Linked DNA regions of Homo sapiens. The protein of the gene in region 2 interacts with the protein of the main gene of each other region in a pairwise test. Each region holds a gene or a part of one and is shown on either strand. Other genes may lie near its edges.

Region 1 (7,514 bases), on a different chromosome or scaffold from region 2:
GAAAAATAGGAACAGGAACAAAAAGAAGACCAATGACTCAGAGGGACAGAAACACAAACGCAAAAAATTCAGACAAAAGCAGTAATGTTTAAAAGGTTTTTATTAAATTATACAAAAACAGGCAGTTAGAAATTGTGTTTTCTTCCTGCCCCATTGACATTTCTAAGGCCCTAATGCATTTGTTCTGAGGTTTGACAGTTGAAGCCCTTCACCAGTGCTAGGGAAATAAAGCCTCCTCAACCTTAAGGATTTCAGTGATAAGAGTCTGAAAGTCTAGCACTTCAGGTAGACTTTGGATGAACTAAGAGGTTCCACAGTCACCCTGTCATATAACTGTCTGACAGAAATAGGGGATGAGGTCTATAAAATGGAAAGGGTGGTATTTCGTTTTTATTGGTAATGAATGATTTGGAATAGAAGCATACAGAACTGCAAATTTCAAGGACGTTAGTGTACATGGCCTGGCCTTTGAAATACAAGGAGAAAGTTGGGTGCAGAAGAAATAGGAGAAAACTACAATAATTTCTGCCTCATTGAGTCTGTGAAGTAGACCCACTTATGGCACATACGTTCCTGTCTTAGAGGCCTGGAACTAGCAGATCTCGTGGAAAGAGTTCTTTCCCATGGAAATGACAACACAGGCAGGTCATTTGAGTGGAGGCTTAAAATTCCTCAGGATACTGGATCAGGGTAAAAGCTGCTCCTTAGATTCCAGATGAGAATGTGTATGGTGTGTTCAGCATAGGGAACACAGCTTTTCTGGGGAAATGACAGTGCTTCCATTGTGAGCCTTGAAGCTCACTGAACCCAAGACGGATGGCAGGTGGAAGCTCTGCTAAGGAGAGGCCCTTCTTACGCCTCTTTCTGGGGAACCTGAGCATGTTAGTGCCTTTTAGGTAATGTTACTTGTGCAGCCTAACTGAAGGATGAAGTCCTCCAGCTTACCACCCTAGCCCACCCTGGCTTGCCCCGAACTAAAGATTTATGTCACTCATTCAATCTTCTGGGTCTACAAAACCAGGAGAATGGAAGAGAAATACTAAAATGCAGTTGTCTAGCAGCCGTACTCCAATTATTAGTCATTAGACCTGCATGTGAGATTTAGTTACCTCTTCAGTTGTTAATTAACATCACTACTTCGGGGAGTGCAGAGTCAGGGCTTGATTTTCTGCAGGATAAGGGGAACAGATCTGTGCTGGGGGAAGAGCTGAGTTGCAGACAACTCACAAAGGCCACTGTGACTAGTATTCCTTTCTGGCAAACATTTACTTTCTCCAAAGCCATGGGTTTGACTGCCATTGTTTCCTAATGTAGGCAGTCTGAAACCGAGGAGGAAGGGGTCCAGTTGACTGGCAAGTGGGGATAATACATTAGAAAACCAAAGCTCCAAAGTGAGTTAGAAATGCATTAGAGTAGGGAAAAGAAGACATTAAGTAAGGAAGGCCAGAGGCCCAAGAAGCCCAAGTTAAGGTAGAAGATGAATTGTGAACTAAAAGTTTGAGGGGCAGAGAAGCAGATTCATTTGGCCAGAAATAAGTATTGGTATAGAGTGATGATGAGAAAGCAGTGGCTTTCTTAGAATTTGAGTTGGCAGTTCCCAAGGCTGGCTAGTAAGCCACACACGGAGACTAACAGGGCCACACCATCTTCCATTGCCCAGCCAGGAGCCTGGCTGGCAGACCTTAGGTGTCTGATGACATTGGAGTAATAGTGTGACTTCTAACAAATACCTAGGTGGTGTTTAGGGGAGGTTATGGCTTGTTCACTCAGGAAACTAGCTTTTTATTACAAAGGGCTTATGATGATTTTATTGGCTGCCAGAGGAACACAGTAAATAACTCCCAAGTGTCTTGTTGGAAATTAATCATGTGGAAATTATCACTTCTTTGGTGCAATAATGCCTTCCAGTTGGGCCTGAAAAACAAAAACAAGCTCCATTAATACTTGAAACTTGCAGCCTGATACAAATAGCTGAGAGGTGATCAAATCTCTGGGAAGAAGAATCCACATGCTGTCACTCCAAGGGTTCTTTTTCCCCTTGATCCCCAAATCCATATTTTCTAGATTAGCTAGTTTCTAGCTTGGCATACAGTCTTTAGTATATGAGGAGAAGCCAGAGCTGTCCTGGTTTCAACACAATAATGGCTCCGGGTATGATATAAAGCATTGAAAAGGATATTGAATGCATTGTTGTAAGGGCTTTTCATGGCTCAGGTTTCAGGCCAGAATATGTCTGCTAAGTTAAACATTTGGCTCTCTGGCCGGGCGCAGTGGCTCATTCCTGTAATCCCAGCACTTTGGGAGGCTGAGGCGGGCGGATCGTGAGGTCAGGAGATCCAGACCATCCTGGATAACACGGTGAAACCCCGTCTCTACTAAAAATACAAAAATTAGTTGGGCGTGGTGGCAGGCGTCTGTAGTCCCAGCTACTCCAGAGGCTGAGGCAGGAGAATAGCATGAACCTGGGAGGCGGGGCTTGCAGTGAGCCAAGATCGTGCCACTGCACTCCAGCCTGGGTGACAGAGGGAGACTCCGTCTCAAAAAAAAAAAAATATTGGCTCTCTGGTTTAGGATCCTGGGAGTTCTGCTGGGACCAGAGGTTTGGGAAACAGTGAATTTTCAGCCACTGAGACAACTTGGCACACAATTAGAGAAATGCTGCCAGTGAATACAGAGCTGTCCCTCTTTGTTGGGGGGTGGGGGTGGGGAATGGAGTTTTGCTCTTGTCACCCAGGCTGGAGTGTGATGGTGTGATATCGGTTCACTGCAACCTCTACCTCCCGGGTTCAAGTGATTCTCCTGCCTCAGCCTCCTGAGTAGCTTGGATTACAGATGCACATCACCACGCCCAGCTACTTTTTGTATTTTTAGTAGAAATGGGTTTCACCACGTTGGCCAGGCTGGTCTCAAACTCCTGACCTCATGTGATCCACCTGCCTCGGCCTCCCAAAGTGCTGGGATTACAGGTGTGAGCTACCACACCCAGCCGAGAGCTGTCCCTCTTTATGTAAAGCTTAAGACACTTGGGAGTTATTTACTATGTTCCTCTGGTAGCCAATAAAATAATACTGGACAGATCTTTAGGTAGGTCTATCCTGGGGACAGCAAAGCTGCTTTATTTGCAATGCAGTTTTGAGCCAATAAAAATAGCTCACTTCCTGTATTACAAGCCTGTAATTCCAGCACTTTGGGAGGCCAAGGTGGGCAGATCATGTGAGGTCAGGAGTTCATGACCAGCCTGGCCAACATGGTGAAACCCCATCTCTATTCAAAATACAGAAATTTGCCGGGCGTGCTGGCACATGCCTGTAATCCCAGCTACTCAGGAGGCTGAGGCAAGAGAATCACTTCAACCCGGGAGGTAGAGGTTGCAATGAGTTGAGATGGTGCCATTGCACTCCAGCCTGGGCAACAAGAGCAAAACTCCGTCTCAAAAGAAAAAAAATTTAAAAATGCCAACTTCTAAAGAATCTTTCACCCTGGAGATTACAAGATTGCTTTTAAATGTTAGAAACATGCTAAGGTATTTGGTTTGCTCTTGTTGCTAATCCAGGAAGAACTGAGGAACTCAGGCTTATGAAAAAGGAATATGGCAGTTAAGGAAAGCAGCCTCAGAGGCTGCTAAGGAAACAGATTCATCTCTGGCTGTGAAAGTTTCTTGCTTTTCTTTGTGCAACAAGAAAAGTTCCAGTAGTGGTTAACAGAAAGCCTTCTTTATCGCAAATGGCCAGTCCTGCTGGTGTGTAGACCAAACAAGCCTGCAATGTCAAGATTGTAAGGTTTCTATCTGAGCCTAGGGAGGAGAGGGAGATCCATCCAGGGTCCTTTGGCCAGGGCCATGGGAGAAGGCCACTAAATGTCAGTAGGCCATCTTTCCAGAACAGTGATGCTCAAACTTCTGCAAACATTAGAATCACCTGAGACCTTGTTAAAGCACATTGCTGGACCCCAACCCCGAATTTTCTGATTTGGTAGATCTGGGGTGGGCCCAATAATTTGTCTTGCTTTGCCAGGTGAGGACGATGTTGATCTAGGGCCTACCTTTTGAGACCTTTGGACCAAACAGCTGGGAGTTGCAGTGCCTGTAGCATGGCCTCCTGCCCAGCTTTGTCCACCAGCCCCCTCCCTCCTATCACCTCAGCTGGATAAAAGACCACTGCTGGCATCGGACTTCGAGGAAGAGCACCTGTGCCTGGGTTCCCCGACCACATTTCTGGGGAAGGTTTCTGATTTGAAATGGTTCTTCCTCTCAAAGGGCCCTGCTGCCCTTTGACTTCTTCCCTGGTTATGCCCTGAAACAGGGCCTCAGAGGAGACAGCCATGGGATGGCACTACCACGCAAGCCACCTGGAGCCCAGCCCCCTCCAGAAAGGCTCCAACATACCAGCTTCCAGGGGAATGGAGTTCCACTTTTTGCCATATCCACCTCTTCCTTGAGGATGGGCAACTTTTTTCCAGGGAGAAGAATCCTCCACTGGAGAGCCAGGCTGAGGCGCCTCAGAGATTTGGAGTTGAGAGTAGAGACCCCCTCTGGAGCCCTCCCCTTCTCCCACCACCAAAGTCAGCTTCCTTTATCCTTTGGCAGTGCATGTGGACAAACATTTAAAAGCCATGGAAAAGGAACCGAATGCCTGGCCTGTGGGGCTGGGTCGCAGGGCAGGGGGCACCTCCACCCCACCCTGCGCGTTGATTACCTTCAGCTGCTGATTTGTTCGCTTCAGGAACTGAATCTCCTCATTGTGCTTCTTCTCCTCCACCTGCCGCCTCTCGCTCTCCCGCTTCTCAGTGGCTTCACATTTTGCCTTCTGCTCGTTCACTTGCCTCTCCAGGTCTCTCTTTTCCGTCTCCAATTCTGCGATCTGAGGAGAGAATGCCCAGTCATCCTGGGATGTCGCCAGGTGAATGGAATGGTGTGAGCCTGGGTGGAAGGGACATGGGACATGACATTGCCAGGGTATATACTGCCACCCAGTGGGAGGTCAGTGCCTGGCATGGAGCGTCTACAGCGGAAACAACTCTGCCAAGACCACCAGGCTGGCCATCATACTCAACCAGGGGTCCCTCACTGAGGTGATGCAAGTCCAGGTGTCGTGACTGTCAGCAGAGCACCTTAGGAGGTCAGAATGTAGTGCTGGAATGATAAGCATGTGGCCCTGAGGTTTACAGAAGAGATGGGACCAAGGGTCACGGTAAACCCCACTCACTTTCCTCTCCATGTCTGACTTCCCCTGCTCAGCCTGCAGTGCCTTCCTCATGCCAAACGCCACGCTGCTCTCGTACAGGGTCTGGTAGGCAGCGATGGTCATGCGGATCTCGTCCCGGACTCGCAGCAGCAGCAGCCCCCTCTCCGCACAGTTGATGGTGACCTCCCGGATCAACTCATCTTCCAATGCACACACACCATGAGATCAGACAGGGCGTGGGGAGGGGGCTTGCAGTATGTCTACTGCAAACACCCTTCCTCTTGGGAAGGACATTAGGGTGTTCTCGCTTGGAGACAAAGTGCAAGGCCTCAGAGAAGGGCCTCAGGGAGGGTGCCTTCAGTGGCCCAAAGAGCCTTGCCATGCAGTCACTCCTCTGAACTTGGCACTTGTGAGTAGCACAGTCAGCAAGACTGGGTTGGCCAGAGCAAAGGAGACAAGAGGCTCTGGTTTGTTTACAGCACTGGGTCCCCTCCCTTCCTGCCTTAGGTAAAAACTGGTTACTACTCGAAAAAACCTGACTTTTTCTGTTTAAAGATGGCAGCTGTTTTAAAGCAGCTGGGACATCCTGTGTGCCCCCTTGGCTGCACTGGTTTGAGGGAAATGGCAGGGTCTAGAGCTTGCCCATCTATCTCCCCATAAATGCTGACCTGGAGGGCAAACCATAATAACACACGGATAGGGAAGCCTGCTAGACCCTGCAGCTGCCTGAGGGTTTGGAGGTGGTTTGCAGATCGGCGTCCATAAGAGCCAATGAGACTGGGCTGGGAGACAGCCATTTGACACCAGCACTCAAGGAGGTGCATCTTAAATCTCTCGTGTCTGTGGGTTAACAACAAATCACAATATTTTTCTGGACCAAGGGCCAAATATTGATGGATGGATGGATGGATGTAAATACTGAACATTAATCTTTCTGACTAAAAAATTAGCACATGCTTATTATAGAAAATCTTTGAAAAAACAGATGGAAGTTATCGTTTTACTCCAAACATCTGCTAAGGGGTGAGGAACTCAAGTTGCCAAGAATATAGTGGTTGGCAGCTGGAGGACTTGTAGAAGAGGCGGGGCTGGTGTAGGGAAAAGAAGGAGAGATCAGACTGTTACTGTGTCTACGTTGAAAAGAAAGACACAAGAAACTCCATTTTGACCTGTACCCTGAACAATTGCTTTGCCCTAAGATGCCGTTAATCTGTAACTTTGCCCCAACCTTGAGCTCACAGAAACATGTGATGTATGGAATCAAGGTTTAAGGGATCTACGGCTGTGCAGGATGTGCCTTGTTAACAAAATGTTTACAGGCAGCATGCTTGGTAAAAGTCATCGCCATTCTCCATTCTCGATAAACCAGGGGCACAATGCACTGCAGAAAGCCGCAGGGATCTCTGCCCTGGAAAGCCAGGTATTGTCCAAGGTTTCTCCCCACGTGATAGCCTGAAATATGGCCTGGTGGGATGGGAAAGACCTGACCGTCCCTCAGCCTGACACCCGTGAAGGGTCTGTGCTGAGGAGGATTAGTAAAAGAGGAAGGCCCCTTGCCGTTGAGATAAGAGAAAGGCCTCTGTCTTCTGCCTGCCCCTGGGAACTGAATGTCTCAGTATAAAACCTGATTGTACGTTTGTTCTGAGATAGGAGAAAAAACGCCCTGTGGCGGGAGGCGAGACATGTTGGCAGCAATGCTGCTCTGTTACTCTTTACTCCACTGAGATGTCTGGGTAGAGAGAAGCATAAATCCGGCCTACGTGCACATCCAGGCATAGTACCTTCCCTTGAACTTATTCGTGACACAGATTCCTTTGCTCACGTGTTTTCTTGCTGATCTTCTCCCCACTATCACCCTGCTCTCCTGCCACATTCCTCTTGCTGAGATAGTGAAAATAGTAATCAATAAATACTGAGGAAACTCAGAGACCAGTGCCGGTGCGGGTCCTCCGTATGCTGAGTGCCGGTCCCCTGGGCCCACCTTTCTTTCTCTATACTTTGTCTGTGTCTTATTTCTTTTCTTAGTCTCTCCTCCTGCCTGAGGAGAAATACCCACAGGTGTGGAGGGGCTGGCCCCCTTCAGCTGGGAAGGGGAAGGGGGCAGTTAGCTGTTGCTGGGTGGGTCAGGCAGGGGGAGAAGAGGGGATTCCAGCATGAGATGGGCTCCAGCTCCAAGGTGCTCAGGCTTGGATCTGTGCTGAAGGTGAAGGGAAGGGAGCAGTAGGGTGTGTAGTGCCCACCCCTCACCTGGCTCACTCACCAAAACACTGTGAGTAGAGTTCCCTGCGGACAGGGCAGATGCCTGTTTCCCTGGCCTGCCGCTGCTGCAGC
Region 2 (7,514 bases):
CAACTCATCTGTGTTGTCTAGGACCAAGAAGGTTCCTGGGATGAAGGACTTTCAGTTTTCTTTTCTTTTTTTTTTTAATTATACTTTAAGTTCTAGGGTACATGTGCACAACGTGCCGGTTTGTTACATATGTATACATGTGCCAGTTTTCAAACTGGAACAGTCCCTCTCAAAATGGTACAAGTTGATTACTCTAATCAGAACTTGGATTCAAACCAAAGTCTGCCTCACTCTAAAGGTTGCGATTTTCATTTACATGACCCTGTCTCACTAATACTCAGAAGACCTGCTGTTTTAGTTTTCACCAGAGAATACAATCACTTTGTGAAGTCCATGCAGGGACATCTGCAGGCTCCAAAGCAGCCCCATCCCACTTGCAGAAAAGGCATTCTTAGCTGGTCACGGAGGACTTAGGAGATCCATACCTTCCCGCCAGCCCCCATGGGACTACTTTTTTTTTTTCTGAGAAGAGTGGCTACAGATTTTATCAGATGCTCAAAGTGATCCGGGACTTAATTAAGGTTAAGAACAATTGTCTAAGAAAACATTGCTTTTATCTCTGGATTAAGCAGAACAGTGGGGTGCTGTACTTACATCTGATGCTTAATGTCTCAAGCAGAGCTGTTTCCCAGTAAATGGCCCAGCACCCACCCGTGCATTCACAGCAGCATGGTGGGTGGGAGCTGTCCACTGCATTCCTCAAACTACTCTCATCCAAGCCCTAGGTGTGTGTGGGGGTGGGGGCGGGGCAGGGGCTGGGCAGGGGTGGTACTTCTTTTCTGTTTCAACTGAAGTTTAAAACACACTTGTCACTTGTCAGCCAGGCACAGGGGCTCATGTCCATAATCCCAGCACTTTGGGAGGCCAAGGTGGGAGGATCACTTGAGGTCAGGAGTTCAAGACCAGCCTCGCCAACAAGGGGAAATCCCTTATCTACTAAAAATACAAAAAAATTAGCCAGGCGTGGTGGTGGGCACCTGGAATCCCAGCTACTGGGGAGGCCGAGGCAGGAGAATCGCTTGAACCCGGGAGGCAGAGGTTGCAGTGAGCTGAGATCGCACCACTGCACTCCAGCCTTGGAGACAGAGTGAGACTCTCTCTCAAAAAAAACAAAAAAAAAAGACGCCTGTCAGTGTCATCTGAGGAGATGGACAGGGGAGGTCATCCCTAGGGGGCAGGTGTCCAGCAGCAAGCAACCAGCCTACAAGGTGCCCCTGAACTGGAAGGCCACCTTCTGACCCAGGAACTGTAAATGGTGCTTAAATAGGGCTGCAGTTATTACTTTTTAAACGTAAAAGTATTATTTTATTATTGATGATTTCTGCATGTATCCTTCTATTTTTTGACAAACATTTATTGCACGCTAAATGGGTGTCAGGAACTATTCTAAGGGTTTTGTGCAGCTATGAGTACAGCAAAGTCCTTGCACCGGGGAGGTCACATCTTGCAGAGGAGATAATAGAAAACAAATAAACCGATGCATCTCTACTATTTCAGATAATGATATGATAATGAATTCTTTTGAGGAAAAAAAAAAAAGCAAGCTTGGTGGCTAGAGACTACACAGGGTTATTTAACTAGGTTGTCCAGAGACATCACTACAAAGAGGGGACTTAGGTGAGGAAAGGGAGTGAGCCACAGGAACATCAGGGGATGATCTGTCCCAACCAGCAGTGTAGACACAAAAGGAAAAATCCCTAAGGCCAGAGGAAGCCAGATAGTGTGCGTTTTTGTTTGTTTTTTTGTGTGTGAGTGTTTTTGTTTGATTTTTGTTTGTTGTTTGTGAGAGGGAGTCTCACTCTGTCGCCAGGCTGGAGTGCAGTGGTGCAATCTCGGCTCACTGCAACCTTCGCCTCCCAGGTTCAAGCAATTTTCCTGCCTCAGCTTCCCAAGTAGCTGGGACTACAGGCACGCACCACCACACCCAGCTAATTTTCGTATTTTTTGTAGAGATGGGGTTTCACCATGTTGGCCAGTATGGTCTCGAGGTCCTGACCTGGTGATCCGCCCGCCTCAGCCTCCCAAAGTACTGGGATTACAGGCGTGAGCCATCACGCCCGGCGTTTGTTTGATTTTTTGAATGAGCAGTAGTGTAGCCCTTGTGGGTCTAAAGGAACACCTTTGCTTCCTCTACCTCTATACTTCTCCTAGCCAATCACTGCTACTCCCAGGTTCTCAGTTATCATCTACGTGCTGAGGATTCCCTAAGTCTGTGTATTCCGCCAAACTCTTTTCTGAGTTTGATTGATATTGCCTAAAATGTATGTGGATGTCATCAGAGACCTGAAACTCCACGCATTCAAAACAGAACTCATCATTTCCTCCTGAAAACCTGTTCTTTCCCCTGTGTCCCCAGGCCAGTGAACAGCAGCAAAGCCAATCCATCAGACTAGGTCAGAAAATGGAGCATCATCCTGGAGCAGAGGTATTCTTCACTCTTGGACCCTGTATGTCAAGATTCTACTGACTGAATATTTCTCAAGTTGGTCCTCCTGTCTCCGTCTCTATTACCTTAACCTAGGTTTGGGCCATCTTTATGTCTAGGTACCCTAAATTTCCTGAAATAGACTCCCACCCAGTCTCCATGCCTCCTGTATAATTTACTTTTCTCCAATGCATTCTTTATATTGCAACCAGAATGGACCATTCCAAAATGCATGTTTGTATCTGTCATCTCCCAGTTTAAGATCTTTCCACCCCTCCCATTAGCTTCCAGATAAAGAATAAATCCATTCACAAAGTGTCCAAGGGCCTGCACACCCAGCCTCTACTCACCTCTCCAGCCTTTTAGCTTCCCACCCCTGTCTCAAGTTCTTCACCCACACTCTCTCTGAGCCCACACATCCTACTGCCTGCAATACTCTCTCAACCCCTGCTCTCCACCCTGGCTTTCTTCCATGTGAAACAGCTCCCCCGACTCCTTATCCCACGTTTATCTATGTAACTCCTACTTTCCATTCATGTCTCATATTCGATACCTCTTCCTCCAGGAAGCCCCTCGTGGCATTCCCAAGTGGGGTTAGGTGTCCTTCTCTGCTCTCAGGTCTTATCTCTATCATAGCTTTGCCACTGTATATTATAACTGCTTCTCTACTTGTTTGTCTTTTTTAGAAGTTATAAACTTCTTAAGCATATAAACATTATCTTCTTTATCTTGGCCCCCTTCAAGCTTCTATAACAGAGGATGGGGCATAATAGGCACTTTGGAAATAAAATTTTTGTTGACTGCCTTCATTTCACAATTGGGAAAAGAAGTCCAGGGAGGTTAAGTTCCTGCTTAAAGAACACAGCTAATTCATATCAGAGTTAACCCTAGAGTACCTGTATTCAAGTTTTGATCCAATTTTCTTTCAGATACCAGACTCCACATAAAAGATAAAACCTAGTTCTTAATCTCATAAGTACAGAGTCTAGGAGGGACTCAAGATCTAGACAAGAAAGCTACAGACTGCGAAGGTCAAGCCACAGGGTTGCACTGAGTGTTGGAGAGGAACACAGGGACCTGCAGGGCCCATCAGGAAAGTGAGCCTAGCCCTGGAGACATGGAAGAGGGCATGCCTGGTTGGGAGAACAGAGTGAGCCATGCTCAGACAGACAGACGGGTGGATAAGGGCCTTATCTGCCATCCTAGCAAGAGAACTTCCACCACAGGAACTTCCTGTCGAAACAGCTGCACCAGGAAGACACTCCCACAAAGGAAGCCTACACCACTCTGCCTCTAGATTATCCATATGCAAAGAGTTCATCCCACCACTACCTCCCTCCAGCTACCTGGGATGACACTCACCTCTTCTCTTCACTCTCCTTGCCCATCTTCCCCATAATAACTGAAAACTAAAGACTGTAAGTTGCAGTTATTCTAAGTAACTGAGAATATGACTTAGAGAATATGACGTCACTTCAACGTCTGCTAAATATAATGAAATTAAAGAAAAAACTCTAGAAGAGAAAGAAAAATAGGCCAGGCGCGGTGGATCATGCCTGTAATCCCAGAAATTTGGGGGGCCGAGGCGGGTGGATCACTTGAGGTCAAGAGTTCGAGACCAGCCTGACCAACGTGGTGAAACTCTGTCTCTACTAAAAATCAAAATTAGCTGGGCATGGTGGCACATGCCTGTAATCCCGGATACTTGGGAGGCTGAGGCAGGAGAATCGCTTCAACCCAGGAAGTGGAGGTTGCAGTGAGCCGAGATCGTGCCATTGCACTCCCAGCCTAGGCAACAAGAGCGAAACTCTCTCTCAAAAAAAAAAAAAAAAAGAAAGAAAGAAAGAAAGACAAGAAAAGAAAAATATTTCCTATATCACAAAGCCCAACAACAAAAGCTATATCATCAATTAAAACATAGGGCAAGACTTTAAAGAATGGGGTGGAAAGAATATGTCTAAAGTGACAAAGAAAGTGAACAGCAGAACTCAACCAGGCCCACACCCTCCAGTGTCTAGCTGGAGACCCCTCTAACAATAAATCTATAGTTTTCCGTGTCCCAAGAAATGTTTCATAAGAAATTTGATCTTGGTAGTCTTGCTATCCAATTGCCTAGTAATGCCTGGAATATTGCAGCTATGTAGGAAATAGTCACTTAATTCTAACCCACAATTTGGAACATGTCATTGTTTCTCCCTCAATCGTTTCCTCATTTTCTAATTCCCAGTCAATGCTGGGACCAGCATCTACTCTGGCACGGAGGCAATCCTACGTTCACTCATTCATTCATTCATTCATTCATTCAGCAAACATTTACTGAGTGCATATTATATGAGAGGATTTGTTCTACCAGTGGGAGTTCAACAGTGAACTACGTAATATATTGATAAGTACTATAAAGAAAGAAACATCAAAATAAGAGACTGTCATTGTAGAAGTAGGTGGTAAGGGTGGGCTAATGATATGCTAAGGTGACATTTGAGTTGCAGCCAGAATAAAGTAGGGACACCCAGTGATTACCAGGGAGAAGAATGTCCCAGGAGGAGGGAGTAGCATGTGCTGCTGAAGATCAGCCAGGAGGCCAGGGTGGGTAGAGGTGAGTGGCTGTGGAGGAGACCAGGTCACAAGGTGGTGAGCCGGGTTGGAACAGGGGCTGAATGTCGTGTAGGTTGCAGGTCATGGGAAATGCTTCAGATTTTACTCTGAGTTAGAAAACCACAAAAGGGCTTTGAGCAAAGAGTTTAATCTGATTTTAGTTTTATAAAGATCTCTCTGGCTGCCTTGTGCACAGTAGACACTGGGAAGCAGAATAGAGGCAGGGACATCAATTCAGAGCCTGGTTTATTAGTCCTTGCCTTCTTCTCTCACGGTGGGAGGATGGAAAGAAAGCCTGAGTATCAACCATGACCCCTCCTTCCTCTTGACCTATCAATGGTCAAAGGTCCCTAGAATGTCTCACTGATATTTTTGTGAGATAGGAAGCAATCTGTTCATTTCTCTGATACCTTCCTTCTGTTCCTCTCTACTATTCCTTCTCACACTATTTCTTCTCTGTCCTTCTCTTTTTCCCACCTCTCATTACCTGAAGTCAAGCATCTCTGCAGAGCCTCCTAAGAGGCCATAAAATCTTTGTTGGATCTCGCTAACCTGGCCTCTATCACAGCTGGGGAGAGCATCCTGCCCAGGTCTAGACCTTTCTGTGACTTCCTATGGCCTTCTGTTAGAGGAAAAGACTGGCTTGCAAAACTCTCAAACGTGTAACCCTACCATCTCCCAAGCCTCAACGGACACCACCTCACCCCTTGGCCTCTTGTTCCAGCCCTGCGGTTCCTTTCTCTTCCTTGCTACTTCTTGTCTCCAAGTCTCTGCATGTTGCTCTCCCTTTCTGATTGCCCTTCCCTCAGGTCTGCATGTGGAGATTCCTTCAGACTCAGCTTAGACTCTCTCTCCTTTAAGAAGGCATCCTTGACAGCCACCACCTAGGAAATATGTCGGAGGCTCCTCTTTGTTCCCGCAGACCCCCGGCATTGCCTGGTTTGTTCTTGCCGATTTCCATGCCTGATCCCCCAACTACATATTAAGCTCTTGAAAGGCAAGGACCTTGTGTTGTCTACAGTTGATTCTCAGAGTCTGGCATGATGAGTGACGCAGGGCAGGCTACTTATGCAAATGCCCTGTACCAGGCACATCACAGCACCACTCCATCCACACCGGAGGTGGAGGGAGGGCCACAGATCCCAGGCTCACAGTGCCACTTTCCTTTGTGATGCTAAAATCTCCCTCACGAGTCACTCCTGAGATGGGTGTGCAGCCACCTAGAAATTATTCATGTTTGAGCAGAAACATTTGACGTTTCTGAGCACCCAGTGTCTGGATAGCTCAGCAGATATTAGCGATGTCCGTGAATCTCTGCCAGCTCTCTCAGGTAAGATCAGACTTGAATCTGAATCTAAATCTTTAGGTCATTCTGCTCCCTCCTGGTGTCTCCCATGTGTAACCAAAGGAGGTTCTTGGTGGTTGGGACCATGACCATCTTCTTAGTTCTTCTTCTCTTGTAGAACTGTAGGTGAAATACAGGGAGGAGACTCATTTGGGGCATTTCAAAAAATTCTGGAACCCTCTATTATTGGCAATTACATCTATCATTTGCAAATTACAGATATTACGTATTGAGTGCCTGGCATGGCATTTTTCTTTCTGTGCATTTGCCTATCTATCTTGAAAGGTGGCTATCATTACAATGCTATGCAGATAAGGCAGATGGCTGGGGGAGCAAAATGATTTACTGAAGGTCACACAGAGCTAGTAAGTGAAGGAGCCAGCATTTGAAGCCCATGTGATGCTGTGAAATTAGACAAGGATTTTGCTCATTTTCTAGGACGAAAATTAAGGAAAAGAACAAATTTACTTAGAGTATTAATATTTTACAGTTAATGAACTACTTTTATGGCACAGCTATTAATTCGCTCCAAAACTCGACATCCCTGTGAGATGGGTATTCACATCCACACTTTATGAATGAGGAAACTGAGGCACAAGACAATCAAGTGCACTAGTTCCAGGTACCCTGAAAACTGAGATTAAATCTAGGCTATCTTAATCCAATGCTTGTGCTTTTTTACTATACTGGAGCTGAAATCAAGGAAAGAAATTGAAGCGAGAAAAAGATATTTCAAGTTTAAAATATTCCATCAGATGTTTTCAGCAAATGTTACATGAAGGCCATTCAACACCAGATTTCAGTTATCCTAAAGTGCCCACTTGAAAAAAAATGAGCATTTTAAAGCAAAATATGTGCTTCTGTTCTCCTTCACTTTGCCTCAGTGGGTTGACCCTAAATAATGCACAACAAGCCATGGAGCATCCTCCAGGCTTGCCACACAGACCGAGATGGCAAAAGCAGCCAGGAATGGCCTTTCTGCAGCCTACGTCTGCACAGGTGGTCATGTTAGAAGTAAGGCTCATTCACTCATTCAACAACCATTCATCATGGCCATGGCTGCACCAGGTGCTGCAGCCACAACCAAAGTCAGATAGGGAGAGGCACCTATCATTGGGAAGCATCAAATCAACAGAAAGGACAGGTATG
Region 3 (7,000 bases), on a different chromosome or scaffold from region 2:
GGTAGAAGATGACCAGCGGGATGAAGAAGGCGAAGAAGTCGATGGTGAGGTTGCTGACGATGAAGAAGAAGATGAGCGCGTTGATGTGGTGCGTGGGGATGATGGTGGACAGCCAGTGCATGCCTGCCCTGGAGGCCATGTCAATCAGGTACTCCTTGATCTCCATGATGGCGTGCAGGGGGTACTTGACCACCTGGGGGAAAGATGGTACGTGGGAACGAGGCTGGGACAGGACCCCCACTGCTCCCATCTCACGCCTCCCTCTGACCACCCTGCCTCTGGGCAAAAGGAACCCGCACCCTTGCGTTTTCCCATCACCAGCCCCATCCTAGTGGTCCTCCCTCCCCCCTTCTCCAGGTGGCCCTCCCCATGCTCGCGGTCCCTGTGAGCCCTCCCTCTTCTGGGCCTGGAGCCCCCCTCTGCCCCGTGCCTGGCTCCCCACCTTCTACCAGCGTGACTAGATGCATGTGTGCTTCTCTCCCTGCAAGACCTCCAGCACTGGAGGGACCCACGGGCTCCCCACTTCCCTCCCCTCAGGGTCACCCACATGAAGAGATGACGGAGCCCTGAGATGCCTGTCTGGGAGCTGGTTTTGTGACCCAGCTCTGCACTACAGCAAGGATGTCACCTCCCTGAGCCTCCATGAAGGGAAATGGCGATCCTTACGAGGAGGAGAAGCCGCAGGCAGTCCCCGGAGGGGTGGCAGAGCAAGCATTAGGGAAAGGGAGTTCAGTGCAGACACAGGCAGAGGGCCCAGCACCACTCTCCCAGCAAAAATACCGTTCAGCTGCACGGGGCTGCCGGGTGAGCTGCCCTCCCTATGGCCGGAGACCCTGAGAAGCAGCTGCCAGGCCACCTTCTGCCCGTACACACACGTGCACACACACACACGCAACCCACCCCTACACACACGCATTCACACAAACCCACCCCATACACACACACACAACCCACCCCTACACACACACATGCAGCCCACCCCTACACACACGCATTCACACAACCCACCCCTATACACATTCACACACACGCAACCTACCCGCATTCAAACAACCCACCCCTACACACACATTCACACACACGCAACCCACCCCTACACACACACACGCAACCTACCCGCATTCACACAACCCACCCCTACACACACATTCACACACACGCAACCTACCCGCAAACAACCCACCCCTACACACACATTCACACACACGCAACCCACCCCTACACACACACGCAACCTACCTGCATTCAAACCCACCCCTACACACACATTCACACACACGCAACCCACCCCTACACACACATTCACACAACCCACCCCTATACACATTCACACACACGCAACCCACCCCTACACACACGTGCACACCCACCCCCACACGTGCACCCTCACACATGCACACCCACCCCTACACGTGTGCACCTACACATACACACCAGCGCACCCCTACCTCCCCATAGTCAAGGCCAAAGGCTGCCTTCCCCCGACCTGTGGGTCCTGCTCCCCTGCTCTGCATGCAGCGCTAAGGTCAGAAAGAGCTCTTGGCCTTCACCACAGCCAAGAGGAGCAGAGGGCTGAGGGAGGCATGCTGGGAGCAGCCTCAGGATGGGGTGAAGCAGCGCTGCCACCCAGGGCCAGCCCTCATGCCTTCCTGGTCTGTGCAGAACTCAGAGGCCCTGAGCCCTGCCAGAACACAGGGCAGCCAGGCAGAGGGACTGGAGGGGATGGGGGACAAAGTGGCCATGGTGCCAGTGCTCACACAGCATGGCGTGGCATACAAAGCAGGTTCTGTGCATCTTCAGAAGTGCCAGGGGCCTGGACCAACACCAGGAAGTGGACGCCTAGGGGGCGGCCCCACATGGGGGTAGGGAAGCCTGGCTGCATGTCCAGGGCCCACTGAGGGGCTACATGACACATCCAGGCTGGAGCCCCCCATCAGCTCCGGGCCTCGGGGAAGCACCAGACCCCACAAATCCCCTGGGGCAGGTTCTCTCCACCAGGCCCACCAGAAGGCCAAGGAGGGATCCCAGGTGAATGGCAACTAGGTGACAACACCAGAATGTGGCCCTCACCTGCCAACAGCCTGGCTATCAGCTCTGGAGGACCAGGACACCTGGAAACAACCAGAAGACTGAGTCTTCCACAGATGAGAGGAGAGGGGCAGGCTCATGGAGGAAACGGAAGTGTTATGAGTGTGTGCATGCATGTCTACACAGACTGAGCCTTCCACAGATGAGAAGGACAGGCTCATGGAAGAAACGGAAGTGTTTAGGAGTGTGTGCATGCACGTCTACACGTGGGGGAACAGCTCTGCTGCTTCATGTATATTTGTGACAGTCCACTTAATCTCTGTTTTATAACAAGCAAATAAACGATTAAAGCAGCTAACAGCTCCCCTAGCTCTCTCTGGGGTCAACAACCTTCTACATGAGCAGAGAGGCGCTCACACTGCCAGGAGATGGCCAGGGAAGACCAGGCACTACAGGGTTTGAGGGCATTTCCAACGCTTGCCAGAGAGCCAGAGGGCATTTATGAAAACCAACCTACTCCAGGGTTTGTTTGGGGCAAGCCCCTGTAGTATGACGCCAGGCCAGCTGGCTAAAATCAACAGCTACACGAGTCAACATGTGCGTCAGCCGGCAGGCTGCTCAGTTAATCCCCGTATGGGGGCCTTGCGAACAGCAGGACAACTAAAGGTGGCCTGGCCCGCCACTGCTCACCACCAGTTTCACGCACGACCGCCACGGTAGCAAGGGGGTGGCCTTGGTAAAAATAAATCTGAAATCCTGTCTTACTCAAAGCCATGCACATTCTTTTGCCTAGAACACACACAACCACCTGGTTGAGAGGGCCTTTAAAAGACAAGGAATATTCTAGAACATTACGTTGGATGGCGTCTAGCCTCTGCTTGGACAGTGTGGAGGGGCTGGTCCCCCACCTGAACTCGATGACCAGGGAACGATCCCCTTTTTAAAGCCCCAATTTCTGCTCCCTGCAATGTACACCCAAGACCTTCCTCTGACATGGGATTAAAAAGTTCAGTCTCCTTTTCTGCAAAGAAGGTCCAAACAAATTCAACTCCTGAGATGGAAAAAGAACGAAACTTAAAAACTATGAGGAGTCTGCCTCTATGAATAGAACACTGCAGAGCTCTCTGTCTGGGCCTGTGGTGATCGGCCCTTCTGCTGCCACGAGAAACCAGGAAGCAGCGTCACCACACCGATGGCCCAGCGGACCCGTGAAGAAGGCAGGCTGGGGAAGGGAGCCGAGACGAGATTCTGCTCAAACCTGTGGGCAAAAATGTTCCCGTGTCGGATCTTCCAATTATGTAATGTTAAAAATGTTACGATTTTAAGATATTAAGTTTGTTTTCAGAGGATTCTATCTACGATGACAGCTTGCACCTCCAGGCTCCAGAAGAGAACTGTGTGGAGTCTGGAACATTCTTTGTGGGAGTAAGGGTGGCTCACAAAGAGGTGTCTGTCATTTTCACTTTGAGTGAAGACCTCTCCTTGTTCTACAAAAGGCTACTAAAAGGTGGGACAGCTCTCAGCCCTGGGAGACGCTTGTGACGATTCATTGCCTCCCTCACAAGAGACTTCTAAGAAGACAAACTGCAAAGGAATCGAAGTGCTCTGACAGCATCCAAAACTAAAGGGAAACAGAGTCTTGTTTACTTCTTGTCAAAACAGCTTAAATCTCTCCCTTCTAAAAAGGACTTTCAGGCTGGATACAGTGTCTCACGCCTGAATCCCAGCAGTGTGGGAGGCCAAAGTGGGAGGCTCGCTTGACCCAGGAGTTTGAGACCAGCGTAGATAACAATAGTGAGACCCCCATCGCTACAAAATGTTTTCAAAAAAATCAGCTGGGTGTGGTGGCACATGCCTGTAGTCCAGCTATTTGGGAGGCTGAGGTGGGAGGATCACTTGAGTTTGGCACGTTGAGGCTGCAGTGAGCTGTGACCGTGCCACTGCACTCCAGCCTGTGCAACAGAACGAGACCCTGTCATTAAGTAACATAAATAAATAGGATTTTCAGATGCTACACAACACTAGACTCACCATCCATAACTAGGTGACATAATTTTCCGAACAGGACGCATATGCAAGGAGGCATTATTATAATAGTACTTACACCAGATGGCATAAACTGGGACACCTGGGCCATGGCCGCCTGGCCCAAGGGTCTTCTCCAAGTTAACCCGTTCACCTGTGACCCTCACTCTCATTTCGGGAGTGTCTTTGCCAAAACCATGCCAGCACCCCAGCTTCCTCATCTCCCATTAGTAAGGAGATGATGGCACCCAATCTGTGAATATGCTTGCCTAGGGCCAGCTCTGAGCAGACCATCAGTAAAAACCATGTGCTCCCTTGGTTCAAGTTCTTGGCCATCCTGGCCCATGTCTCAGAACCTCTGCAGACCGGTCGGTGTCATACCCTGGACATACAGCCTGTCCCAAGTGGGAGGAGCAGAGCCTTCCACCTGCCACCCTAAAGGACTCGCAGCTCTGGGCACTCGGGGGGCTCACACTCAGACCTGTCTGGCTCCGAGTCCCTGCAGCAGGGCTGCTGTGCCTGCTGCTCTTTGGGCTGAAGCTGCTCCTGCAGCACCTGGGTTCCTGCTCTTCCCCCCCACCGGAGGGCGGGCCTACTCTGACCTTCTCCCTGGCTCGAGGACGGTGACCTTTCAGCCTGCTGCCTGCCTGACAGTTGGTGGCCCAACCATCTCCTGGTCCTGGCCCTGACTCACGCGCCCATCTGAATACAATGATGGCAGTTCCTCCAGGTTCTCAGTCAGTTCAGAAGACAGAACCCCAGGGTGCCTGCATGATACTGCCCGCAGCCTCTGTGACAATCATCTGCTGGGGCCCCCTGTGCTGGCCTCAGCTTGGGGATCCTGGGTCAGGAGGCCAAGCTTCTGGAAATCCTGGTGTTCTCTGCAGAGTGAGACAGGCACACATCTAATTCAACCATGCGAGCTGAACTGTGAGCAACTCTGTGAGAGGCCATAGGGCCACATGGCCAAGAAAACAAGCTGTCAGGCCAGGAGTAGGGCCCGCACTGCTGGGCTTCCCGCTCCCCGCTCCCCGCTTTCCTCCTGCCGCCAAAGCTGCTCATGTCCTCCAGGTGTGCCCAATGGCACCCTGCACAAGTGTCACCCACCACGCTCCCACACTGGCCTCGCTCCCTGAGCCCTTGCAGATCCAGGGGCAGTAGGCGCCTCTGCACGTCCTCCCTGGCCTGACGGACACGGCACTTTGTTTTCGGGGAAGGCATCTTCAAGGCACTGGCCTCCACTCTGGACCATACATGGAGAAATCTGCTAAGTGATGAAGTCTAGATGAAAGTCTGCGTCCAGCCCGCCCCACTGCCCCCTACACTGCACAGAAAGACCCAGGGGCCCCTTGCTTGCCATCCTAGCACTCCTGCCCAACACCGCCCCTGGTTTCTGAGCCTGACGGCGCAGAAAAGAAAGGCCTCTCTCCCGAGGACACATCCTTATGACGATAGATGATGACCCAAAGGTACCAGCGGCACGGCTGTAAGACACTCTTTGTTAGGCGCGAACCTCCCCACCTGCAGCTTCCTGGAAGGTGCCCTGCCTGAGGTGCGCGAGTCCTTGGGAGGCAGGCTCCGGCCTGACCGGGGTCTTGGTCACTCACCTTCAGACGCAGTGGCAGGTCCTCAGGGCTCTTCCCCGCCAGCTCGTCATCATCTTCGTCGTCCTGCAGGAACAGGCTGCTGGGGATGACGCCCTTGGCGTACTTCTTAGTGATCTCCACAAAGTCATCCAGCGCGATGTAGTTCTTGGCTGAAGCATGAGAGAAAACAGCATGGGCGCCCCACACTGCAGCCCCACTGCCACCCTCACACAGAGCAATGGGCTGGGGACGGTGGCGTGGGGCCAAGCTAAGAAAGGAGCTGAGTGGGTTCAGGTGGAGGAAACCCTTCCCTGGGCGGCCTGAGGGTTGAGGACCAGGCTGGGTGAGGAGGAAGGGGGCAGGTTTGCCAAGTGCCAGCCTCCACTCCTGGCCCCCGGCCCCTGGGTGTGCTGTCCCCCACCCCAAGTGTCCCTCTCTGCCTAGCTCCTTATGCCTGGGGCCACTCACCCACACCTTTCACCCAGTTCACCTGCCAAGCCTTACAACATGCACCTCCAGTGCATGCTGACACCCTCCTCTTCAGCCAGCGTGGGGCTTCTCACAGCACGGGTGACAAGCCGCCCTGTAGGGCAGTACCCTGCCAACCGCTCCATCGAACATGATCTGCGCCCCCAACCCCTCCATTCAACGTGATCCACCCAGGGCCTACTGTGCACCTGCTAAACCGCTCCATCCAACATGATCTGCCACACACCTACTATGTGCCTGCTGACACCTCCATCCAACAAGTGTCTGCCATGGGCCTACTACATGCCTGCTAACCCGTCCATTCAACATGCGTCCTGCCATGGGCCGACTTACCCCTCCATCCAACATCTTCCACCAAGAGCCTGCTACGTGCCCACTGATCCCTCCATCCAACGTGATCCGCGAGAGCTACGTGCCCACTGACCCCTCTATCCAACATGATCCCCTAGGAGGGAATGAGGCCCCTGAAGGACCCCAGTTGCCGTGGTGAGATGGTGACCAGGAGGGCCTCCAGGGGAAGGATGGGAAAGAAAGGACCATGCTGGGGCAGGGCAGAGGGAGACAAGCCAGGGTGCTGCAGAAACCCTAGGGAGGAGGCAGGCTGCATCCAAGATGGCAGCCGTGATAGTGGGCGCTGACAGACCTCCTAATGGATCAGCTGTGTGTGCAAGAGGAGAGGAGTCGGGGCAGCACCCAGGTGTAGCTGCAGCAAAGAGATGAGGCAGCCTTGGGGGGGCCCACACAAGTGGCAGGTAGCACAGGCCTCAGTAGCTCACTGTAGACTGAGCTGTGAGGTGACCATGGGACAGCCAGGTACAGGAGATGTGGAAGGAGCACGGGCTGGATGCAGCCTGGGCGGGCTGGGGGCTTGC
Region 4 (7,514 bases), on a different chromosome or scaffold from region 2:
TAAAATTCTACACCATGCTGTAGAAGGTAGAAAACTTTAAATCTTGCAGCAAACTTTATTTAGAATCAATATCGTAGTGGAGAACCTAGCCCTCTTTACTTCTATCTATAAATTTAATTCTTTTGTACAATTGATTCTCTTCATTTCAAAACTGGAAACACATAGATAGAAGTGCTTTACAAACACATGTCATATAATTGTAACATATCTAGAAATTAAAGGTGATTTATAGTTGTCAGTATTTCCAAATGGCTGTATAATATATAACCAGGATGTAGAGTTGCCAAGTAGCACATTAAAAGTGCTGACGCCCTGCCATTTTTAGTAGAGAAAAGGGTTGCAGGGAAGAAGTTCACTTTCAGTAGTTTAATTTCATTTTGGTGTATGCAATTTTTTTATTCAATAGTGCCTGCTAATCAAAGCAGTTATTTGGTGTTCTGTTTCAGAGCAGAATAAAAAATTGCATTGACTATTAGAATAAACCTAAAAACCAGGATGTTTTATTTCTGAGATAAATGCAAAGTACTAGATCATCGTATTATGAATATGAAAACTTAACAAAATTCAGTTTTAAAAAATACCCTATTCTTTGCCTGTTATCAAATGTATAATTTAATGTTTTTATATAATTTAACATTTTTATATATTGAGTTGCTTGTAATCACAAATAAATACAAATACACATTTTTTTTTTTCATTGAAATCCCAGGTTGTAGCTGCTTGTGCCATGCCAGTAATGAAGGGTTGGAATATCCTAACAAACTCAGAAAAATCCAAAAAAGCCAGGTACTTTATTGTTATTCAATGTAGTACCCTTTCATAAAGCAGAAAATTGCACATTTTGGTATTTAGACCTTCCCATAGATTAAGAATTTAATATCAAACTCGGAAGAAGTTGGTGTGCTCAGCTTCTAGGAGCAATAGAAGTGAGTACTACATAGTAGAGAAGGTGAAGTCAGGAGTTTATGGTATTGAGCTTTAGGATCAGCATTAAAAATCCTTCTTTAGTAACTTGCTCAACTTGTGAAGAAGGGTGAATCTGGACTTACTAAGCTACTACTATACTATACTGGGATTGATTGTGTTTGTTTTTATTTTGAATTAATGTGAATATTTTCTGAGGACCATTCAGCAACTTTTGATCATTCGGTATTGTTAAAAGTTACAATTTTCTTTATTTTTTGAAACGAGGTCTCACTATGTTGTCCAGGCTGGGCTTGAACTCCTGGCCTCAGGTGATCATCCTGCCTCAGCCTCCCTCCCATAGTTCTGGGATTACAGACGTGAGCCACCAAACCTGACCAAAAATCATAATTTTCTATGTTCTCTAATGATACTTTATTCTAGGCTCCTCTAAGCATTTTCCAGATTGTGTGTTTAATACTACCAGAATGATACTCGGGAGGATCACTTGAGCCCAGGAGCTCGAGTCCAGCCTGGGCAACATAGCAAGACCCCGTCTCTTAAAAAAAATATTACCACAATGATAGATAATTGGCATTTCTGATATTAAATGTAAAATTACTATTAATTGTATAACAAATATACATCTATGAAGGTTGTTTAAATGGCCTATATGTGGGCCTGGCACAGTGGCTCACGCCTGTAATTCTAGCACTTTGGGACGCCAGGGCGGGAGGATCACTTGAGGTCAGGAGTTCGAGACCAGCCTGACCAACATGATGAAACCCTGCCTCTACTAAAAATACAAAAATTAGCCAGGTGTGGTGGTGGGCATCTGTAATCCTAGATACTCGGGAGGCTGAGGCAAGAGAATCGCTTGAACCTGAGAGGTGGAGGCAGGAGGCTGCAGTGAGCCAAGATTGTGCCACTGCACTGCAGCCTGAGCAACAGAGCGAGACACCATCTCAAAAAAAAAAAATAAAGTCTATAGGTCATTTTGAGTGCCAGCAGTTAATGTCAGTGTGTGTGTATTTGAGAGTCATTTTATATGTTACAATTTTCATACAGGGAAGGTGTGATGGAGTTCTTATTAGCAAATCACCCATTGGACTGTCCTATTTGTGACCAGGGAGGTGAATGTGATCTGCAGGTATGTAGTAGAATTCTGTCAATCTTTTTGGTTGTCTCAGATTTTAATTTTATTAGCAGCATGAGATTGACTCTTTCATAATCTACTTAAGGACCAGTCCATGATGTTTGGAAATGATAGGAGCCGATTTTTAGAGGGGAAGCGTGCTGTGGAAGACAAGAACATTGGGCCATTGGTAAAGACCATCATGACAAGATGTATACAGTGTACTCGCTGCATCAGGTAACTTTTTTTCCTTTTTTTTCTATTATAGAATATAATTGTATACTTAATAGTCACAATTTGATGAATAATAACATTGGAAAGAATGGCTACTTTTTTTGGGTGGGAGAAGAGGGATGCTGTTTCTGATATATGAATAAAATAAGTTCACTTTCATTTAGTACCAACTTCAGGTGGATTTAAAAATTAAAATCTATAAGCATTTGCTTTCACTCATAACTTGGTGAGTTGTACACATATGATTTGTACAAGTTTCTGCCTGTGTGTTACACCTCAATTAAATGCAAACATTTCATTATTTTTTATTCTAGGACTGTGCTCACCTTTAAAAATATACTCATTTCTTTTTAGTGTTTGGAAAATCATCTCTTTGTGATCATGAATAAGAAAGGAAATAATTTTGCTGGACTTGACCATTGATGACACATTTTTTATCTTGTAGGTTTGCAAGTGAGATTGCAGGAGTAGATGATTTGGGAACAACAGGCAGAGGAAATGATATGCAAGTTGGCACATACATTGAAAAGATGTTCATGTCTGAACTGTCTGGGAATATCATTGATATCTGCCCTGTAGGTGCCCTAACCTCTAAGCCCTATGCCTTTACTGCCCGGCCTTGGGAAACAAGGTATCTTTTATTTTATGACAATTTGTTTTTTTGTCCTTAATTCATTACTATTCAAAAAAATATTAAGGTTCATTTTCTTCCTGGGTTTCAGTTGTTTTGGTCTGTTGACTTTGTTTGTTTATGTAAAACCCTTTAAATAGAAGGTAAGTAGTTAGAATGGATTGAACCTGTGCAAATTAACTGTAGTTTTCTTGGAAATTAATTCTAAAGTACTCAACCACAAAATTATTTTTTTCATGTGTTCTTCCAAAGAGTTTAATAGTGTTGACATTTTAAATGTATAGTCTCCCATGTTGTTGTTTATTAAGTTTTCAACTATGAGGAATGTCATTTAGCCAGTTTCTGCTAATAGACATTTAGCTTGTATATTTCTTTATGATTACAAATCTGTAAAAAATATTGCTGTTTACACATTTCTGTGTATATCTCTCATTCTCCTGATTAAACCAAGAAATGGAGTAGATAGATGCAAGAGGTGTGATTATTTTTAAGGTTCTTAAAACATAACAAATTATCATCCAATTTTAAACTTTATACTTTTCAACTTGGGATTTGGCTTTTTGTTTCTGTGTAATTTCTGTGTCCTTACTGAGAATCTCTACTTGCTGATTCGTGGTTGTCATACATCCCCTTCAATTTTTAAATATGATTTTCTTTGGTTCTTTCAACATATTTTAATATTCTTGGTTTTATTTTTAAGTGAGGCTTCTTAGGAGTTCCCCTGTGTCTGCATAGTTTAGTAGTCAGGTATAATTGTACTTCAAACACCGTGACCTAATAAGAGTTATGTTCTTTGCCAATGGATCTGTTTGTGGATGGAGGAGCATATTCAAAGTTGAGGCTGTTTTCAAGTTTGCCCAGCTATTACTTTGCACTGGGCCCTTTGGGTCTCAGAGTTATCCAGGAGTTTATGAATAGGTTGAGCTTTCTCTGGTTTCACCTGCACATGTAGCAGCCTCTGTTAGGAATGCTTGCCGCAATTACCACTACAAACTTAGGCTGGTAAAATCTTGGCTATCCTCAGCTACGATGACCTCCAAAGTATCACCTCCACAAACAAGTTTGCCTCGTGCTCCAAGTTAAGTGAGTTGTCTCCATCTGTACCAAAGAAGTTCTCATCTTCACAGCCTGCCCCGGCCTCGAAGAAATTCCATTTTGAGGGGGTGGAGAGGAGCATAGGAGGAGCACTGAGCCCAGCCACCAGTTTTTCAGTGCATAAAAGCTTCCCACATTGTATGTGTTTAGATTTCTAAACTGCTGAAATGGTGGGTTTTGTCATTTTTGGCCAGCTTTACTTTTGCTTTTCAGTGGGAAGGTTTTTTGAGCTCCTTAATCTCCCATAGACAGAAATCCTGCCCCTCTTGTTGAATCGTCCCAGATTTGGCTAGTTGGAGCCCCTTCAAACTAGCTTCTGTGTCAGATAATAGTTTTAAAGCCTTCCTTACTGTGCCAGGAATTTATGTGTTCAAATGTGGGTGTGCCGGGAGCAGTGGCTCACACCTATAATCCCAGCTTTTAGGAGGCCAAGGTGGGAGGATTGCTTGAGACCAGTAGTTCAAGACCAGCCTGGTCAGCATAATGAGACACCGGCTCTACAAAAAATTTTTAAAATGTGGTGAGAGGATAGTTTGAGCCCAGGAGTTCTAGGCTGCAGTGAATTATGATCATGCCACTGTAGCCTGGGCAACAGAGTGAGACCCCAGGGCAAAAAAAAAGGTGGGGGGTTCTTTTATTTAATTGCAGTTCCTCTAAGCTTCATTTTTTAAAGTAATTCAGAAAGGGAATTAATTGTAAAAAAAATTTTTTGGTAAACCAGGTAACAGAAACTTTCTTTATTCCCAAAAGCACCATAGTAAACACCGTATGTGTTTCTCAGAAAGACAGAATCCATTGATGTAATGGATGCGGTTGGAAGTAATATTGTGGTTAGCACAAGAACTGGAGAAGTGATGAGGATTTTGCCACGTATGCATGAGGACATCAATGAAGAGTGGATCTCTGATAAAACCAGGTATATGCTATATTGTTTTCCTTAACTTTTACAGTTTATTTAAAGGAAATTTTATAATAATTTTGAAGAATTATCTTTTATATTTGCAAATTAGTTACTGAATATAGACTACTGGAATCTGAGTTGCTTATATAATGTGATAATACTGACTTTAATAGTCCTAGGTCAATCCCTGGATATTGTATTTACTTTGAGAAAGATATTTTTTCCTCCCACATGGAGAAATTCAAGTAGATTGATACATTCTCAACTTATTTCAGTTTGTTCATTAGAGAAAAGAAGCTAGGCTGGGCGCAGTGACTCACACCTGTAATCCCAGCACTTTGGAAGGCCGAGGTGGGATGATTGCTTGAAAAAGAAGCTGAATAGAAGAGTTTGCACAATATAATTTTGATAAAATATTTAGAGATACTCATGCTTTGTAAATAAAAATGATTTGACTTTTTTAGCTGTCAGATTTTTTTGTGTTGTAATTTTAAGATTGTTCAGTTAGCTGAAAGTATAAGAAATCAAACTTTTTTTTGTATGATTTAAGGGAAGAAATCAAACTTTCAGATGGTATTTTAGTTTTAGGTGAAGTTCATAAAATCTATTAGTTCATCTCTAAAAATATCTGGAATAATTACTTGTATCTAGGTGTTTAGATATTTGACACTTTAACCAGTACTGTATTTAAATAACATTTCTTGTTGATTTAACTTGAAAATTATAGTTACTTCTTTAGCAAGATTCCACAATGGTGTAATTTCTGTTTTCTAGATTTGCCTATGATGGGCTAAAACGTCAAAGACTTACCGAGCCAATGGTCAGAAATGAAAAAGGGCTTTTAACCTATACTTCTTGGGAGGATGCGCTCTCTCGCGTAGCTGGAATGGTAAAATTTGAAATAAATAGTGTTAAATAGTGTTTGTGATTATCAAGAAACATCTTTGCCATGAAGGGGGGGATGTATATTTCTTCCCTTTTTTACTTTTACCAAGATTATGATTTAATCTCCTTCCATTTTACAGACATCTACTGAGGACATATGCTAGATATTATGCTATTAAGGGATATAAAGACCAGAGACACATCATTCCTGCATCCTACAATCTTGTAGTAGAGAAAGTTGCACAATTCAGCAATTATTATATGCAGCTATGAGTAATTATATAAGGAGTAATATGAGTGAGAGCACGTAGGAGGAATGCCTAACTAGGACAGGCATATCAAGATGCCTTCCTTGGAGGTTGCAGTGAGCCGAGATCGCACCACTGCACTCCAGTCTGGGTGACACAGCGAGACTCCATCTCAAAAAAAAAAAAAGCTGCCTTCCTACAGAAGGTGATTCTTAAAGAAGAATCTGAGAATGAATATAAGCTTGCCAGAGTACAAGTGGAGGGAATAGTTTTCTTGTTAGAGAAAGACAACATAAAGCACTAGAGGGAAAGGCAGATACTTCAGAGGAGGTCGCATTTAAGGTAACTATAGTTCCACTTCATTCTCCAGACCTCATTTTGAAGTGCCTTTGTTCCTAAATATAAAACAGCTTCCTTCTAAGTTGATGTTATTAGCTGTGGCCCCACATAACACCTCTGCAGCTTTTCACTTTTAGATTAATTAATAATTGTTGTACAACTTTTTTTGTGTTTTTGAGATGGAGTTTTGCTGTTGTCGCCCAGGCTGGAGTGCGGTGGCGCGATCTCGATCTCGGGTCACTGCAGCCTCTGCCTCCTTGGTTCAAGCAGTTCTCCTGCCTCATCCTCCCGAGCAGCTGGGGATACAGGCGTATGCCACCATGCCCAGCTGATTTTTGTATTATTAGTAGAGATGGGATTTCACCATGTTGGCTAGGCTGGTCTTAAAGTCCTGACTGCAGGTGATCCGCCCACTTCTGCCTCCCAAAGTACTGGGATTACAGGCATGAGCCAGTGTGCCTGGGCATGTTGTAAAACTTTTAATCAGAAGTCTGTTAACTTTTTTTGTACTTGAAAACAAGTACTGTTTTATTTTCTGAACATTTCATTGTGGTCTTTGCTGCGTGTAGGTTTCTTGGTGATGCCCTTTTCATCTGTTTCTAGTTGCAGAGTTTTCAAGGCAAAGATGTGGCAGCAATTGCAGGTGGCTTGGTGGATGCTGAAGCCCTGGTAGCTCTCAAAGATTTGCTTAATAGAGTGGACTCTGACACCTTATGCACTGAAGAGGTCTTCCCCACTGCAGGAGCTGGGTGAGAAATATGAAGCTAGGATCTAGGCTTTCCTTTCTTTTTTTAGTTACAAGTTATGTATAAAATGTGACAACCTGGATTCTCCAACATATCCCCCAGTTTATTTTCATATATAGACCAAGATCAAACCAGAAGTTGTAGGAAATAGAGGAATCCACTTATCACTAAGTATCTCAGGCACAGTGGCTCACGCCTGTAATCCCAGCACTCTGGGAGGCCAAGGCAGGCAGATCGCCTAAGTGCAGGAGTTTGAGACCAGCCTGGCCAACATGGCGAAACCCCGTCTCTACTAAAAATACAAAAAAATTAGCCAGACGTGGTGGTGTGCGCCTGTAATTCCAGCTACTTGGGAGGCTGAGGCAGGAGAATTGCTTGAACCTGGGAGGTGGAGGTT

Evidence for each region.
Region 1: the proteins of FAM135B (region 2) and DNALI1 interact in binary tests that used the Homo sapiens proteins (3 or more experiments, as listed by UniProt).
Region 3: the proteins of FAM135B (region 2) and WFS1 interact in binary tests that used the Homo sapiens proteins (3 or more experiments, as listed by UniProt).
Region 4: the proteins of FAM135B (region 2) and NDUFS1 interact in binary tests that used the Homo sapiens proteins (3 or more experiments, as listed by UniProt).

The regions. Positions count from the first base shown.
Region 1 is NC_000001.11:37,559,426-37,566,939, reverse strand, and holds the end of DNALI1 (axonemal dynein light intermediate polypeptide 1), read right to left. Parts: coding exon 7,444-7,514; intron 5,384-7,443; coding exon 5,205-5,383; intron 4,860-5,204; coding exon 4,695-4,859; intron 1,915-4,694; coding exon 1,879-1,914; 3' UTR 86-1,878; downstream 1-85. Other genes in the region: GNL2 (nucleolar GTP-binding protein 2), read left to right, coding at 1-85. UniProt on the Homo sapiens protein: Involved in sperm flagellum assembly.
Region 2 is NC_000008.11:138,486,902-138,494,415, forward strand, and holds part of FAM135B (protein FAM135B), read right to left. Parts: intron 1-7,514.
Region 3 is NC_000004.12:6,293,850-6,300,849, reverse strand, and holds part of WFS1 (wolframin), read right to left. Parts: intron 5,810-7,000; coding exon 5,661-5,809; intron 194-5,660; coding exon 1-193. UniProt on the Homo sapiens protein: Participates in the regulation of cellular Ca(2+) homeostasis, at least partly, by modulating the filling state of the endoplasmic reticulum Ca(2+) store.
Region 4 is NC_000002.12:206,142,292-206,149,805, reverse strand, and holds part of NDUFS1 (NADH-ubiquinone oxidoreductase 75 kDa subunit, mitochondrial isoform 1 precursor), read left to right. Parts: intron 1-709; coding exon 710-786; intron 787-1,971; coding exon 1,972-2,053; intron 2,054-2,144; coding exon 2,145-2,275; intron 2,276-2,717; coding exon 2,718-2,903; intron 2,904-4,779; coding exon 4,780-4,914; intron 4,915-5,673; coding exon 5,674-5,788; intron 5,789-6,974; coding exon 6,975-7,120; intron 7,121-7,514.